Homo sapiens: one gene and its partner. The protein of the gene in region 1 interacts with the protein of each later gene in a biochemical or structural test. Each region holds a gene or a part of one and is shown in the gene's direction. Other genes may lie near its edges.

Evidence for each region. Proteins that work in one complex are often made in the same cells at the same time.
Region 2: the proteins of PPP3CB (region 1) and IRF2 form a complex in vitro, tested with the Homo sapiens proteins (one study listed by BioGRID).

What each region holds. Positions count from the first base shown.
Region 1 is NC_000010.11:73,471,424-73,479,443, reverse strand, and holds part of PPP3CB (serine/threonine-protein phosphatase 2B catalytic subunit beta isoform), read left to right. Parts: coding exon 1-127; intron 128-820; coding exon 821-945; intron 946-2,232; coding exon of another isoform or gene 2,233-2,286; intron 2,287-4,413; coding exon 4,414-4,525; intron 4,526-7,830; coding exon 7,831-7,976; intron 7,977-8,020. UniProt on the Homo sapiens protein: Calcium-dependent, calmodulin-stimulated protein phosphatase which plays an essential role in the transduction of intracellular Ca(2+)-mediated signals.
Region 2 is NC_000004.12:184,415,551-184,423,060, reverse strand, and holds part of IRF2 (interferon regulatory factor 2), read left to right. Parts: intron 1-3,492; coding exon 3,493-3,592; intron 3,593-4,352; coding exon 4,353-4,529; intron 4,530-4,847; coding exon 4,848-4,894; intron 4,895-7,510. UniProt on the Homo sapiens protein: Specifically binds to the upstream regulatory region of type I IFN and IFN-inducible MHC class I genes (the interferon consensus sequence (ICS)) and represses those genes. Also acts as an activator for several genes including H4 and IL7.

The sequences.
Region 1 (8,020 bases):
GTTCTGAAGAACCACTTGGTGAAAGAAGGTCGAGTAGATGAAGAAATTGCGCTTAGAATTATCAATGAGGGTGCTGCCATCCTTCGGAGAGAGAAAACCATGATAGAAGTAGAAGCTCCAATCACAGGTAAGCTTATTCATGTTTTGGGTATTATTTTTATTATGTCATTATTTAGTTGCCTGGATTTACAACTTACTGTTTTCAATGATACTGTATGCTAAATCAATATTACTTGGACATTATCTTGAATTTCAAATTATTTTCCATACTTAAAAATGATTGCCTGTTTTCAGTGAATAGACATGATTCTAAATAATCTGAGTGTAGAAGTTAGTCTAATATGCTTTTGTGAAGGTTTCATCAATTGTGTTGACCATACTTCAATTTGATCAATACTTACTTTGCTTTCAATTGTTAGGGTCAAATACCTTGATGTCATATCAGATACCAAAAGTGACCATTTAGAGAGCAACAGAAAGTATTGAGTTAGAATGGATATTTTAACTGCCACCATTGTAATTTTGTCATCTTGAAACTTAAAACACATCCTTGGAGTCCTAGAGACGATCTTTATAAATGTAGATTTCAGTTTGTCACTGACCACAAATTTCGTTATTTCTGTTACATCTTTTTCTAGATCTTGAGCACATGAACACTTGGTTACACATCATCCTAATCATGACTGTTCATAGACTACTTCCTTCTCAGACATTTCTTGATAGCATTTGTACTATGTCTTATGTAAAATACGTTTTAACTTAAGTAAAATTTGTTGTTTTAGAGATTTTTTTCCCTTATCTAATAATCTTCTTGTTTCAGTGTGTGGTGACATCCATGGCCAATTTTTTGATCTGATGAAACTTTTTGAAGTAGGAGGATCACCTGCTAATACACGATACCTTTTTCTTGGCGATTATGTGGACAGAGGTTATTTTAGTATAGAGGTAATAATCATAAACTGTCATTTGATTTGCTGTTAAGTGTTAACACAGATGCTTTCACTTAATCCTAGTTTTCACAAGTACCTGTGTTAGGTTTTTTTAATAACTCTGCATATTCTGAAGTTTTTATGAAAAGCTACTATTTATTCCTGTTCTGTCTTTCAAACAATTCAAATAAATTTCTTTGTATAACTCTGTTTATATAATTATAATTGCCATTTTTTTCCCAGTGGAATTTATGAGCTGACTGAGGGGTCTTTATTGCCCTGTTAACTAGTGGCCTTAAAAATTTAGTGCTATTTATCTCTCTTGCCCCTAAAGGCATTAAACCATGTGAAAAAAGATTACTTGAATTCTGTCTGATTAAATAAAGTATATTGTGATTTTTTTATTGCTTGAGCCCTAGTGCTTCTGTTTCTCCTTGTGTAGCTATTAAGACTCAAGTATATCCTATGGAATCTTTGTGTATTTGGAAAGTATTAATTTGTTTTTAAAAACTTGAGGCATTAAAATGACCTTTTGATTATCACTTAACAGTAGATGGTTCCTTTTCTTCCTTTTTCTCTTTTCTTTTTCTTTTTTTTTGAGACAGGGTCTTACTCTGTGGCCCATGCTGGAGTACAGTGGCACCAGCATGGCTCAATGTAGCCTTGACCTCTTGAGCTTAAGGGATCCTTCTGTCCCAGTCTCTCAAATAGCTGGGACCACAGGTACACACCACCATGCCTAGACTAATTTTTAATTTTTTTGTAGCAATGGAGTTTCCTATGTTGCCCAGGCTGGTCTTGAACTCCTGGGCTCAAGTGATCCTCCTGCCTTGGACTCCCAAAGTGTTGAGATTACAGATGTGAGCCACATTGCCCTGCCATCTTTTTAAATTATATAAACAAAATGCAGCAAATGTAGAACAATATGTATTTTCCAATATATACATTTTTTCTTTTTTTAATGAAAAGGGGATCATATTATAATATTGTCTGTAACTTGCTTTTTCATACATGCCTACACCAAATATCCTTCCAAGTCAGTAAATATAAACTCGTAGCATCATTTTAATATCTACATTGTTTTCCATCTAATAAACAAACCATAATTAATTAATTCCTTGTGTTAGACACTGAAGATGTTCCCAGTTTTTTTCTTTACAAATGATGCTTTAATGAGTCATATTATTCATACATCTTTACATACTTGCCTGATTATTTTTGTAGGACAAATTCCTAGAGGTAGAATTGTGGGGTCAAATTTCTACCAATAGATACCTGTGTTGCACATTTAATATGTTCTAAGCATGTTCTAGGCACTGAAGACATATCGATTAATCCTCACAATAATATTAATGAGGTAAGTACTGTTGTTTTATTCATTTTATAGATGAGGAACCTGAGGCTTAGAGAGGTTAAGTAACTTGCCCAAGGTATTATTAGTAAACAGCATAGCCAGGCAATGTGACTCCCAGCATATGCTTTTAACCACCTTCCCTAGTAGATACTGAAACCTTACCTGGTGAATTTATGTTGGTTACTGTTGTTTATATCTCCTTCTCCAGTGTTTCCAATATACCTTTTTTTCTGAGGTGTGCTAGGATTCTCAGAGTGGAAGGAAGTTCTAGACTCTGTCTGTCCTGCTTCCCTTAGGAATTTTGCTATTTTGAGTTCTTCTTCCTCCTGCTGATAGTTGATTATTAGCCTCGTCAACTTTTCCCAAATTGTCACAGGGCTTCAGGCAAATCAGAAAATGGCCCATTTTAACAAAAAAATTTCAGGCATTTGACCAAAACAATAAAATAAACAGTTTTATGAAGCTTATTTGGTAACTAAGTTGGTGTGCATGTCCTTGTGTAAGATTGTTTTGCAGCTGACTCTTTTTTTTTTTTTTTTTAATTGAGATGGACTCTCACTCTGTCGCCCAGGCTGGAGTGTAGTGGCGTGATCTCGGCTCACTGCAACCTCTGCCTCCCAGGTTCAAGAGATTCTCCTGCCTCAGCCTCCCAAGTAGTTGGGATTACAGGTGCCCACCACCACTCCCGGCTAGTTTTTGTATTTTTAATAGAGATGGAGTTTCGCCATGTTGGTCAAGCTGATCTCGAACTCCTGGCCTCAGGTGATCTGCCTGCCTCGGCCTCCCGAAGTGCTGGGATTACAGGCGTGAGCCACTGCGCCTGGATGTAGCTGACTCCTTTAATACATTTTGTTGTTATAAAAGGAAAATAACAAAGAATCAAAATAAGCATCGAGAACAGATTATTTCCCTGATTTTATTACTTTTTTCCCTTTTGAATAAAATGAAGGATATGAATAGTTACATGTTTAGATATACCTTAATTTATTAACAATAAAGTTTTGTTGGGTGTGGTGGCTCACACCTGTAATCGCAGCACAGGTTGGCCAAGTCAGGCAGATTGCTTGAACCTGGGAGTTCGAGACCAGCCAGGGAAACATGGTGAAACCCTGTCTCCACAAAAAAAAAAAAAAAAACTTAGCTGGGCCTGGTGGCATGTGCCTGTAGTCCCAGCTGCTCAAGAGACTGAGGTAGGAGGATTTCTTGAGCCCAGAAGGTCGAGGCTGCAGTGAGCAGTAATTGTGCCATTGCACTCCAACCTGGGTGACAGTGAGACCTTGTCTCTAAAAATAAAAAAGTTTGTTTTTTCTTTTTGCATATGATTATATAAACCATGCTTATTTCCATATCAAATATTTCTTCCTTTTTTAAGCAAATAAGTAAAATGTGAGTCTCTTTCTTATGTTAAATCTATTTAGAGAATAGCATCTGCTATAATGTTTAATAATATTTTTATTTGAAAAATTACATTTGCATTGAATTAGTTCAGATAATAAGCACTTACCATATGTAAGGCAATATTCATAATCAATGAAACAAACATAAAACATGGACCTTCCCTTCATGGGCAGCATGGCATAATGCTTAAGATCAGAGGATCAGAATCCTATCTCCATCACTTAGAAGTTTTGTGGTTTTGGACAAGTTACTTGAGATCTTTGCTTCAGTTTCTCATTTGTAAAATAAAGATGATATTACATACTTCATAGTGTTGTTTGAGGAATAAATTAGGGGAATTATATAGTGCTTCACATATTGTAAGTACTTAATAAATGTTAGCTGCTGTTATTTTGACAGTATTATTTACTAATACGCATCTGTAGACCAGTGTGCTAATTGTTTTTATATTGGGCAGTCTGTAAATCCAAAGTAATTAAATAGATTGTTTGACTCATTCATTCAACAAATATTTATTGCTCTTCTCCTATTTGCTAGGTACTCTTCTGGGAGTGGAGAATCAAAAGTGAATAAGATGACAAAATCTGTGATTTTGTGGTGCTTATATTTTAGTAAGGGACAAAGAAAGATAATAGAGGATGGTAAGGGTAGTAGAGGAAAAGGAGCAAAGATCAAGCAGCTTCATTAAACAAAAGTACAAGATAAATTCACTAGAAAAATTTTCTTTTGCAGTGTGTCTTATATTTATGGGTTCTGAAGATTCTATACCCAAGCACATTATTTCTTCTGAGAGGCAACCATGAATGCAGACACCTTACTGAATATTTTACCTTTAAGCAGGAATGTGAGTACTGCCAGAAGAAATGTTTTCACTTCCTCAGTATTCTTTTGGACTTAAGTGGGTAGTAAGAGTTTTGAAGACTTTACAGTGCAACATGTAAGGACAGATTTCATGTCCACACATAAAGCTTTGAGGAAAGTTGTCGAGCACTCTCTGGTGTTTAATGGTATTAAGAAGTTTTTGGTGGGGCATGGTGGTTCACGCCTGTAATCCCAGCACTTTGGGAGGCCCAGGCAGGGGGATTGCCTGAGCTCAGGAGTTGGAGACCAGCCTGGCCAACATGGTGAAACCCCATCTCCACCAAAAATACAAAAAAAAAAAATTAGCTGGGTGTGGCGGCACACTCTTGTAGTCCCAGCTGCTCAGGAGGCTGAGGTGGGAGGATCGCTTGAGCCTGGGAATCGGAGGTCATAGTGAGCTGAGATCATGCCACTGCACGGACAATTGCCTGGGCAATAGAGTCAGACCCTGTCTCAAAAAAAAAAATTTTTTTTCATTTCAGAATTTCTTATTATGTTTAACTTTTACAAACATACTTAGAGTTTTATATATAAGTTTTAATGTTACAATTAATTTTTCTAAGCCAGGCACGGTAGCTCACGCTTGTAATCCCAGCACTTTGGGAGGCCGAGGCGGGTGGATCACCTGAGGTCAGGAGTTCAAGACCAGCCTGGCCAACACGGCAAAACCCCATCTCCTAAAAATACAAAAATTAGCCAGGCGTGGTGACATGTGCCTGTAATCCCAGGTACTCAGGAGGCTGAGGCAGGAGAATCACTTGAACCTGGGAGGCGGAGGTTGCAGTGAGCCGAGATCGCGCCATTGTACTCCAGCCTGGGCAACAAGAGCGAAACTCTGTCTCAGGAAAAAAAAATGTATATATTTTTTCTAACAGGAAAAAATAAAAACCAAAAGAAAAAAATGTTATTTTGCATTGGAGATTTTTGTCCTTCAATCTTGAGGCATTCCTGTGAGGAATCCTAACAAATTGTTTATCCTGTTACCATTGCAGATCATTTCAATCATGCTATTAATGATTGAAATTCTTCTTAAAATTTTTTTGTTTTTTTAAATATCATTGTTTTAAGACTAGTCAGGTACAGTTGGTGAAATTCTTAACCTGCAATGTTTATCCCTTTTCTCTCTCAAATTATTATAGCAATGGTAATCTAATACCTGTAAGTAACCATATGTTACAGAACAAGATTAGGCCTTTTTCACACCTCAAACCTTTGTGCTTTTTTATTATTTTTGTTATTTTTATTTTTTTTTTGAGACAGTCTCGCTCTGTCGCCCTGGCTGGAGTGCAGTGGTACAATCTCGGCTCACAGCAACCTCCTCCCGGGTTCAAGTATTCTCCTGCCTTAGCCTCCCAAGTAGCTGAAATTACAGGCATGCGCCACCACGTCCTGCTAATTTTTGTATTTTTGGTAGAGGCGGTGTTTCACCATGTTGGCCAGGCTGGTCTCTTAACTCCTGACCTCAAGTAATCCACCTGCCTCGTCCTCCCAAAGTGCTGGGATTACAGGTGTGAACCACCGCATCTGGCCTGCCTTTGTGCTTTTTAAGTTAATATTTATGACTGTATTAAGTAGAGTTAAATTCTAAAAGCAGAAATAATTTCAACGTTTTGAGACTCAAAACATGATCCAATAAAGGTCATACTAAGTAGAGACTTGCAGCAACAGGAGAAAAATACAGTGATGGGTAGTGGCAGAAGTGGCATACTCTTATAACTTCAAGGATCAGGCAGTTAACCTAAATGAGTAAGATAAGACCTGGAAAGTGCATGCTTGACCTAAAAGCAGTCAAATTAGAATTTTTATTAAACCACAGTGCTAGAAAACAGAGTCGTTAGCAGACTGCCAGTGTAGAATCTCTGGTTGCTGGATATATATATAGTTTTTTTAATATTTGAATATTACAGTATTAAAACAGGAAATAGGAACTAAGTTCTTTTTCTTTGCCTAGATAAATAACAAACCACCTACCAAAATCTCATCAAAACCAAAATAGGAATTTAAAGTTGTAAAGGAGCAAATGAAAGTGCATGATATCTCTCTAAAAGTAAATGATAGTTTGATTTGGTAGAGTTTTGTCTTTCTTGTGTTTCTATATTGGCTTCCTGCTTCACTGCCCATTTTAAAGTATTCATTGTAGGCAAGAGGAACCCCTCAGCTTTTCTGACATGAGCATGCTATTATCTTTTATTTTTCAGAAAAAATGGATGAACCTTGAATTTTGTTGTGATGATGTAGTCATCTTGCCTGTAATAAGAATAAAGTAGTCATTGACTCTTAGAATAAAATAAAGCAAGTATTAAAATGATTTTAACCTCAAGTACAGTTCTAATTTTGCCTTATTTGGCCGATAAAGGTGAAGGGTTGAGCTGTTTTTAAGAGATTTCTTTCTTTTTTTTTTTTTTTTGAGACAGAGTCTTGCTCTGTCGCCCAGGCTGGAGTGCAAGTGGCACGATCTCGGCCCACTGCAGCCTCCACCTCCTGGGTTCAAGTGATTCTTGTTCCTCACCCATTGAGTCTCTGGGATTACAGGTGCACACCAGCATGCCTGGCTAATTTTTGTATTTTTAGTAGAGACAGTGTTCTGCCATGTTGGCCAGACTGGTCTCAAACTCCTGGCCTCAAGCGATCTGCCTGCTTTGGCCTGTCAAAGTGCTGGGATTACAGGCGTGAGCCACCGTGCCTGGCCTGTTTTTAGAGATTTGACTGACTTATTTTTAACAATACGTGATGACTTTTCTGTCATCCAAAATAATTTTAGAGAGCAAATATTTTGCTTCATAAGACATAACATCATCGAGAATAATTTTAGAGAGAGCAAATATTTTGTCTTCATAAGACAGATAACTTTGCATATTTTTGTTGATTCTTATAGGGGAAGATGCTTTCCTTAAAAAAATTGTGTGCAGTAAGATTTATTCTCTGTGGTATTTACTTCTGTGACTTTTGACACTGCATAGAGTTGCCCACTACCACTATCATGATACAGAAAAGTTTTATCATGCCATAAGTTCTCTCTTGCTACCTTTTTATAGTCACCCCTTCACTCACTCTGAAGCCCTGGCCACCACTTTGCTGTTTACTGTCTATAATTTTCTTGCCATCTGTCTGTCTGTCTGTCTGGGCTATTACTACAGTTGAAACTGTAACTATCTCAATTTCATTATAAATAGCTATAAGATATAAAGGAGGGGAGAGAACAAGAAATAAAAATCTAATATATATGTTTTTAAAATGGTCACACCACCACCAGTAATGTAATTTTCAATTAGTTTTTTGTTTTTCTAGGTAAAATTAAGTATTCGGAAAGAGTCTATGAAGCTTGTATGGAAGCTTTTGATAGTTTGCCTCTTGCTGCACTTTTAAACCAACAGTTTCTTTGTGTTCATGGTGGACTTTCACCAGAAATACACACACTGGATGATATTAGGAGAGTAAGTATATATTTTACTTCCGAGATTGATTTCTATTTATAGTA
Region 2 (7,510 bases), on another chromosome or scaffold:
TTCATATGGTCTTCTTCAAAAAAAGAATCTGTGATACAATTTTAAAGATATTTCTGATAAGTTTATTAGTCTTTTCTTTTTTTTCCTGAAGTATGAAAAACTAGGTAAAGGTGACATGTAGTTTAAAAAATATTTACCATTTTAAAGTGACATTCACGATGTCATGCAGCCATCACCACTGTCCAGTTCCAGAACTTTTTATCCCTCCAAAAGGAAATGCTGTACCCATTAATCAGTCACTTCCCATTTCCCTCCCCCCTAGCTTGTGGCAACCAGTAATCTGCTCTCTGTCTCTATGGATCTCTGCTCTCTGTCTGCTCTCTGCTCTCTGTCTTTTCTGGAATATTTCATGTAAATGGAATCATTCAATTTTTGGCCTTTTGTGTCTGGCTTCTTTCATCCAGCATAATGTTTTCAAGGTTCGTCCACATGGTAGCATGTGTCAATACTCTATTCCTTTTTGTGGCTGAATAATATTCCATTGTATGGATATACCACATTTTGTTTACCCATTCATCAGCTGATGGACACTCGGGTTGTTTCCATCTTTTGGCTTTTGAAAGTAGTGCTGCTATGAACGTTTATGTTTTGGTTTGAATGTTGGCTTAGAATTCTTTGGGTATATATCCAGGTGTAAAATTCCTGGATCATCAGGTAATTCTGTGTTTCACTTTCTTGAGGAATGGCCAAACTTTTTCTCCAGAGTGGCTGTACCATTTTGCATTTCCACAGCGATGTGTGAGGATTCCAGTTTCTCCACATCCTCACCAACGTTTGTTATTTGTGTATCTTTTTTTGGAGACATGTCTGTGGGTTAGTCTGTTTCATGTTGCTACAAAGGACTACCTGGGGCTGGGTAATTTATAAAAAAACGAGGCTTCTTTGGGTCAGGGTTCTAGGCTGTACAAGAAGCATGACCTTGGCATCTGCCTCTGTTAAGGCCTCAGGATGGGAGGCAAAGGGCATTACATGGCAAGAGAGGGAGGAAGAGAGAATGGTGCAGGCGACAGGCTGTTTTGAATAATCAGCTCTCACCGGAGCTAATGGAGTGAGAGCTTACTCATTACCACGAGAACGACACCAAGCCATTCTTGAGGGATCCTGCCCCATGACCCAAACACCGTCCACCAGACCCCACCTGCAACACTAGCGATCAAATTTTAACACGAGATTTTGAGGGGACAAACACCTGAACTATTCCAGTCTACTCAGGCCTGTTGCACATTTCAAGAGGGTCCATAGTGTATGTTGCTGGGTTTGGTCAGCGCTTTTGTAGTTGCATGGCTTTTGCGGTTTCTGTGGGACTAGGTTTGGTTGTGTGTGTGTGTATGTGTATGCATGCATGCGTGCAGATGCTTAAAAAGATCTACTTTATCTGTATCAATTTTGTGTCTTGCAAGTTAGATTTCAGATTGTGTCACCCTAGAACTCCTTTGATCTAGAAAAAAGTGCAACAGCAAATTCTTAAGAATCTCGGTGTTTAAGCATAAAGCTTTAGATTCTGGGCATGCACTTCAGGAAAAGCTCTTTCACGAAATGAATTTTCACTTGTATTCATTTTCATGTGAACATCAATAAATGGCATTAAGTGATTTTGCTGTCGATTTTCATCTACATTAAAGCATAAAATGTCACTCAGCCCCTTTCTGATCACTGTCCTTTTGAAATTGGCTAACCCGAAGCCCTCTCTGTGGATGATACAGAATGAACACCGAGGAATTTATGAAAAAGTCTCTCACTTTCAGTTCTCCTTTAATAACTGACTTTTTAGAAGATGGTAGAATTTTCCTTTTAACAGGTTTTGGGAAACTCTCCAATGTTCTGAAATAGTCTTTGTTCTGGCTTTGTGATTGGTTCTGTGGAGAGGCGCTGAATCTCTTTGGGGACAGCTGGGACCCTTTCTGTGTTTCACTATGTGAGACTGAAGTGGTGGAAACTCCCTGCTGACATTTCCTCTCCTTCCTCAGCATCTAGTGCAGGGATCCGCATACCTAGCAATTACCAGAACTGCCTTGAGAGCTTTGAAAGAGTACAACCTCCTGGGCTTTAATCTCCACAGAATCCAGGTCTCAACTGGTCTGTCATAGGACAGGGACTCTTCCAAATCTAAAAGCTGGGAGACAATGAGTGGGTGATTAAGTAATAGCATATGGAGTCGCATGACCTGGGTTTTGAACTTAGACACTTATTATCCTGCAAGTTCCTTGACTAAATAGTTAAAATCTGCTTCTTGGTTTCCTCAGCTATAAAATGGAAATCGTAACATATACCTCACTCAGTAGGCTGTGGGAGGAAGACAAAACTGAGGTCCCTGTGGATGTGGGTAGTCAGATGCACAGTGCCAATGGGACCTTAGTACCTGCCGGTACCGCCACAAGAGCTGCTTGGGCCAGGTTCCTCATCTGTAGCTTTACTAAGAGTACGGCTTTGTTACTAAACCATGGGTTTCCAATCATGTGTTTTTCAGGGTTGCTTGAGGCGGTTTTGAGTTACAGACCTCAACACTGAGAGAGATGTAGAGATAGTCTGATATAAGGATTGTATTGAGGGATGTTTCTCCAGAAAAATGTGTCATTTCATAACCTCTACCTCTTTGTTTGCACTTCTTGCTATTTCTTGCAGGCAGTAGACCCACAGGGATTCGAACATTACTTTCTATTTCTGTTGGATGCACAAGCAAATGGAGATATTTGGTTTCTGTGACAGTGGCCTCAGATGTACCCGACTTTTCTTTAGTAGCATCAAGGGTTTTGGAAACTTGTCTAATTTTTAATTTACCTAAGATAGCTGGAGTTACTATTTACCAAACGACGAGAATAAATTATAAGAGTAAGCATTAGAAGTTTCGGTAGGTGGCCATTTTTCTGTGGTTTTATAAAAAAAAGAGGCACAGGGCCGGGTGTGGTGGCTCACACCTGTAATCTCAGCAGTTTGGAAGCCTGAGGTGGGCAGATCACTTGAGGTCAGGAGTTCGAGACCAGCCTGGCCAGCATGGCAAAACCCCATCTCTACCAAAAATACAAAACTTGGCCAGGCGTGGTGGCACATGCCAGTAATCCTAGCTACTCAGGAGGCTGAGGTGGGAGAATCTCTTGAACCCAGGAGGTGGAGGTTGTAGTGAGCCGATATCGCGCCACTACACTGCAGCCTGGGCAACAGAGCGAGACTCTGTCTCCAAAAAAATATATTGAAAACTAGAAAAGAGGCACAAATAATGGAACACACAAGGTCAAATCATCACCTTTGACCTTGGAAAACATTCCTGCTCTGCAAGACTTCACGAGACTGACTGTCACTCGGGGTAGTCTATCAAGATTTGGGATCCAGCGGGGGAAGTGGGTTTGGTTTACAGTAGATTTTCTTGTCAGCAGTCAACACATTCAGCGATGCTTGCTGGGGAATCTTGCTGGCTAGACCTTCACAACCTTTTGCAATGGTGGGCCAAAACCCATGACTCCAGTTCTTTACCTTTTTTTTTTTTTTTTTTTTCAGGAAAAGAAGATTTTTCAGATCCCCTGGATGCATGCGGCTAGACATGGGTGGGATGTGGAAAAAGATGCACCACTCTTTAGAAACTGGGCAATCCATACAGGTACTAAAACTCCCTGCGGCGTTTATAGAGGAAGGCACTCTTGCTTAGTTTTGTTTTTATTACACATAAAATAGCCTGGCTTATGACCTCATGAAGATGGCTCTGAAAAACCTGTGACTTGTCCCTAGGCACATCCAGGACACATGGGGTACAAACTGCAGCCCTCAGAAGTAATGCTCCCCTCATCCCATACACTCTTAGTCCTTCAATTTCCTATAAATGTGGTATTCTAAGAAGTTCCCTAGGTGTTACCGGGGAATAGAAACTCAGTTGTTCTGATGCTATAAACTTTGGTCAAATTTATCTCCCCCCCAAAAAGGTAGTCAGAAATACCTGTATTTATTACAACCTTTACGTAGGGAGCTGTTTACAGGAATGGACTTTGTTGGAGCGTCAGATGAAAAAGAGGCACTCAGCTTCCCTCTGCCTGTTGACTTTGCAGCCTCTCAGTCTTCTATATTTTTCTTACGCTGATGCTCCATTCTTCCAGCATTTATAGTTTCCTCAAGCTGTTCAGTAGAACCAGGGTGACCAACTTGTCCCAGTTTGACTGGAACTGTTCAGGTTTTAAAAACAAAATTCCCACATCCCAAGAACTTTCTCACCCCCAGGTACACCAGGACGATTGGTCACTGGAGGTATAGCATGGAGTGAAAAGGTTTCCTTATACTGCCTGACCAGCAATACTGTGTTTCCAGAAATTCCTTCCTCTGTATCTAATGTTTTCTCTCTTTTTCTTAATCTTTGTCTCTTTTGTTAGGAAAGCATCAACCAGGAGTAGATAAACCTGATCCCAAAACATGGAAGGCGAATTTCAGATGCGCCATGAATTCCTTGCCTGATATTGAAGAAGTCAAGGATAAAAGCATAAAGAAAGGAAATAATGCCTTCAGGGTCTACCGAATGCTGCCCCTATCAGAACGGCCTTCTAAGAAAGGTAAAGGCATTTACAGACTAAAATAAGGTAAATCAATTTGTGTCATCGTGCCTTCGTGATCTCTTCATTTCTACATCTGCAGTCAGTTTGCAGGTAGAATAGCCTGTTCATGCTGTAGGGGATCATTCCGCCCCTACCTGGCTTGGAAACAAGACTTTCGATTCACCAGAGGCAGTGAAAGATACATGTGGAATTTTGACCATGTACAGATTAAAGCAACAGGTTCATTGAGAGTTTCAGAAAGAATTTAATTTGAGGGAAATGTTTCTCTGGAGGCCCTTCGTGAATTAATCCAAAACTACATTTTTGTTGCCACAGGAAAGAAACCAAAGACAGAAAAAGAAGACAAAGTTAAGCACATCAAGGTAATCTTGGGTGATTCAGAGAGAAAGCCAAAGTTGGGATCCTATTAATGACTCATATTCTGCCTTGTAAAGATGAGTCACAGGACCTCAGTGTGTCCTCTTTCTTCCTTTGCTTGTGTCTTCTGTGCTTTACATGTTTGCTCTTCAGCATGTATCCACTTGCAGACATGGAGGTACACAGGGCCCTGCCTCATCCCGTTTCTCTGGGAAATTTATGAATGAAGTCACAGATTCTCACTGTGCTCGGCAGGCTGAGGCCTCCATCTGGCCACCACAGCCGTTGCCAGTGGTCATTTTGTGCCAGCTAAACTCCACAACAGCTTATTCTCATACTATTAAGTATATTTTCAGGCTATTAAGTATACTTTAATATGTATTAAATGTTATAGACCTCTATACAATGTATGAACTCTATGTTACAGACATTCCGTCACAGGCCCTTTGGTGGGGGACAGAGTGGTCAATGTCAGCACTCTATCAGAACAGCTCTCAATGGCTGCCTTCTGTCCACTGTAGAATCATCTCTCACACCCCACAAGGGTTTTCCATGGGATGTGCATGTGTGTGTCAGCTTCTCACTAGGCTGTGTCGTCTGAACTCCCCTACAGTCTGAGGATCTTTATGCATAGATTAGGTGGCCCTTGTTAAATAGTAAGAGAAGAGCCGAATATGCCCTGCAAAACTGGGGACGAGCTTCAGTGGCTGAGCAGAGAGCATACACTGCGGTCACAGACCCAGGGATCTCAGAGAGATTGTCGAGCTCCCTGGCCTCCCTTTGCAGATGAAGAAATTTAGGCGGAGGGTGTTTTTGCAGTGATGCTTTCAGTTTCACTTTTACTAGTTTTTATTTTTAACTAAATTTAAATATTGTACTGTATTAAAGGCCTAATTTTGTTTTAACTTTTCATTGTGGAAAGATTTTATGCACATAGGAAGGAGACAGTTGAGTAAAATTTACCCCATAGGCCATCATTCAGATTAATTTTAACCTTAATCAGCTCCTGGCCAGTTTTGCTTCATCAATAGCCCCTCCCATTTCCTGACTTCTAACATGAAATTGCAGCCCTTCAACCATTTTTGACTTACAGAAGTAATTTATTTATTTAATTTTTTTTAAACTGAGATGGAGTTTTGCTCTATTGGCACAGGCTGGAGTGCAATGGCGCGATCTTGGCTCATTGCAACCTCCGCCTCCTGGGTTCAAGCGATTCTCCTGCCTCAACCTCCCGAGTAGCTGAGACTACAAACACGTGCCACCATGCCCAGCTAATTTTTGTATTTTTAGTAGAGATGGGGTTTCACCATGTTGGACAGGCTGGTCTTGAACTCCTGACCTTAAGTGATTCGCCCACCTCAGTCTCCCAAAGTGCTGGGAATACAGGCGTGAGCCACGGCACTCGGCCCCAAAACAATTTTTTATAGTTCAGCTTTTTTTTGAACTATTTTTTGGAATTTGAAGCAAATTCCAAACCTCATAGCATTTCTTCCATAATAGTTCAGTATATATATTTAAAAGATAAGTGCTCTGTAAAAATACCATGATGTCATTACTGTACCTGAAAAAGTTCACAGTAATTTCTCAATATCAGTGAATATCCAGCCAGTGGTCAGAGTTTCAGTTGTTTCATACATGTTATAACATTCGTGTAGTTTGTTACTTAAATTAAGACCCATATAAAATCCACATGTGATTTTTGAATGTCTTTTAAGTATTTTTTAAGGATATATGTTTCTCCTATATTACCTCTTAAAACATTTTTTTTTTTTTACAATTGAACAAACCTAGTTGTTAGCCATATCGTTTCTCACAGTTTTTTTTTTCGTTTTTTTTTTTTTTTGTTTTTTTTTTGAGACAAGGTCTTACTCTGTCACCCAGGCTGGAGTGAAGTGACGCGATCATAGCTCACTGCAGCCCCAACCTCCCGGGCTCAGGTGATCCTCCCGCCTCAGCCTCCCTCTAGTAGTTGGGTCTACAGGTGTGTGCCACCAAGCATGGATAATTTAAAAAAATTTTCTTTTATAGAGGTGAGGTTTCATTCTGTTGCCCAGGCTGGTCTCAAACTCCTGGCCTCAAGTAATCCTCTTGCCTCGGCTTCCCAAAATGTTGGAATTACAAGTGTGAGCCTGGCTGAGTTTGTATTTTTAAGGCCTACGTTTTGATTCATGTTATTTAGTCAGAAAAGCACAGCTTTCTCACACATGTGTGAGAATTTGCTACAATTTCAAGTGTGACTGAATCGTATTTACTACTCTTTTCCCATTATCTAGCTCAGTGCCTGGCCCAGAACAGATCACTAATACGTATTTGATAACTGAATAGATGCATCCGCATTTGTTGACTAAATAGATGTATAAATAAGTAGGATATGTGGGGTGGGAGTGAGGGGTTTTCCATTAGGATGCAGATTTAATTTCATAATCGCAGTTAATGGAGAAATAAGAACGGAGTAACAGATGTTGCCTTTTCAACACACTTTGCTCACATGTACCCACTGTATTCCATCGAACGCCAGATGCCAATGATGCTAAGATGCACTGTTATTTTATGTATCTCTTAGAAAAACTGCTTGCAATGAAACCATGACACGTAATGGATTGAAAGGCATGTCCTCTTTC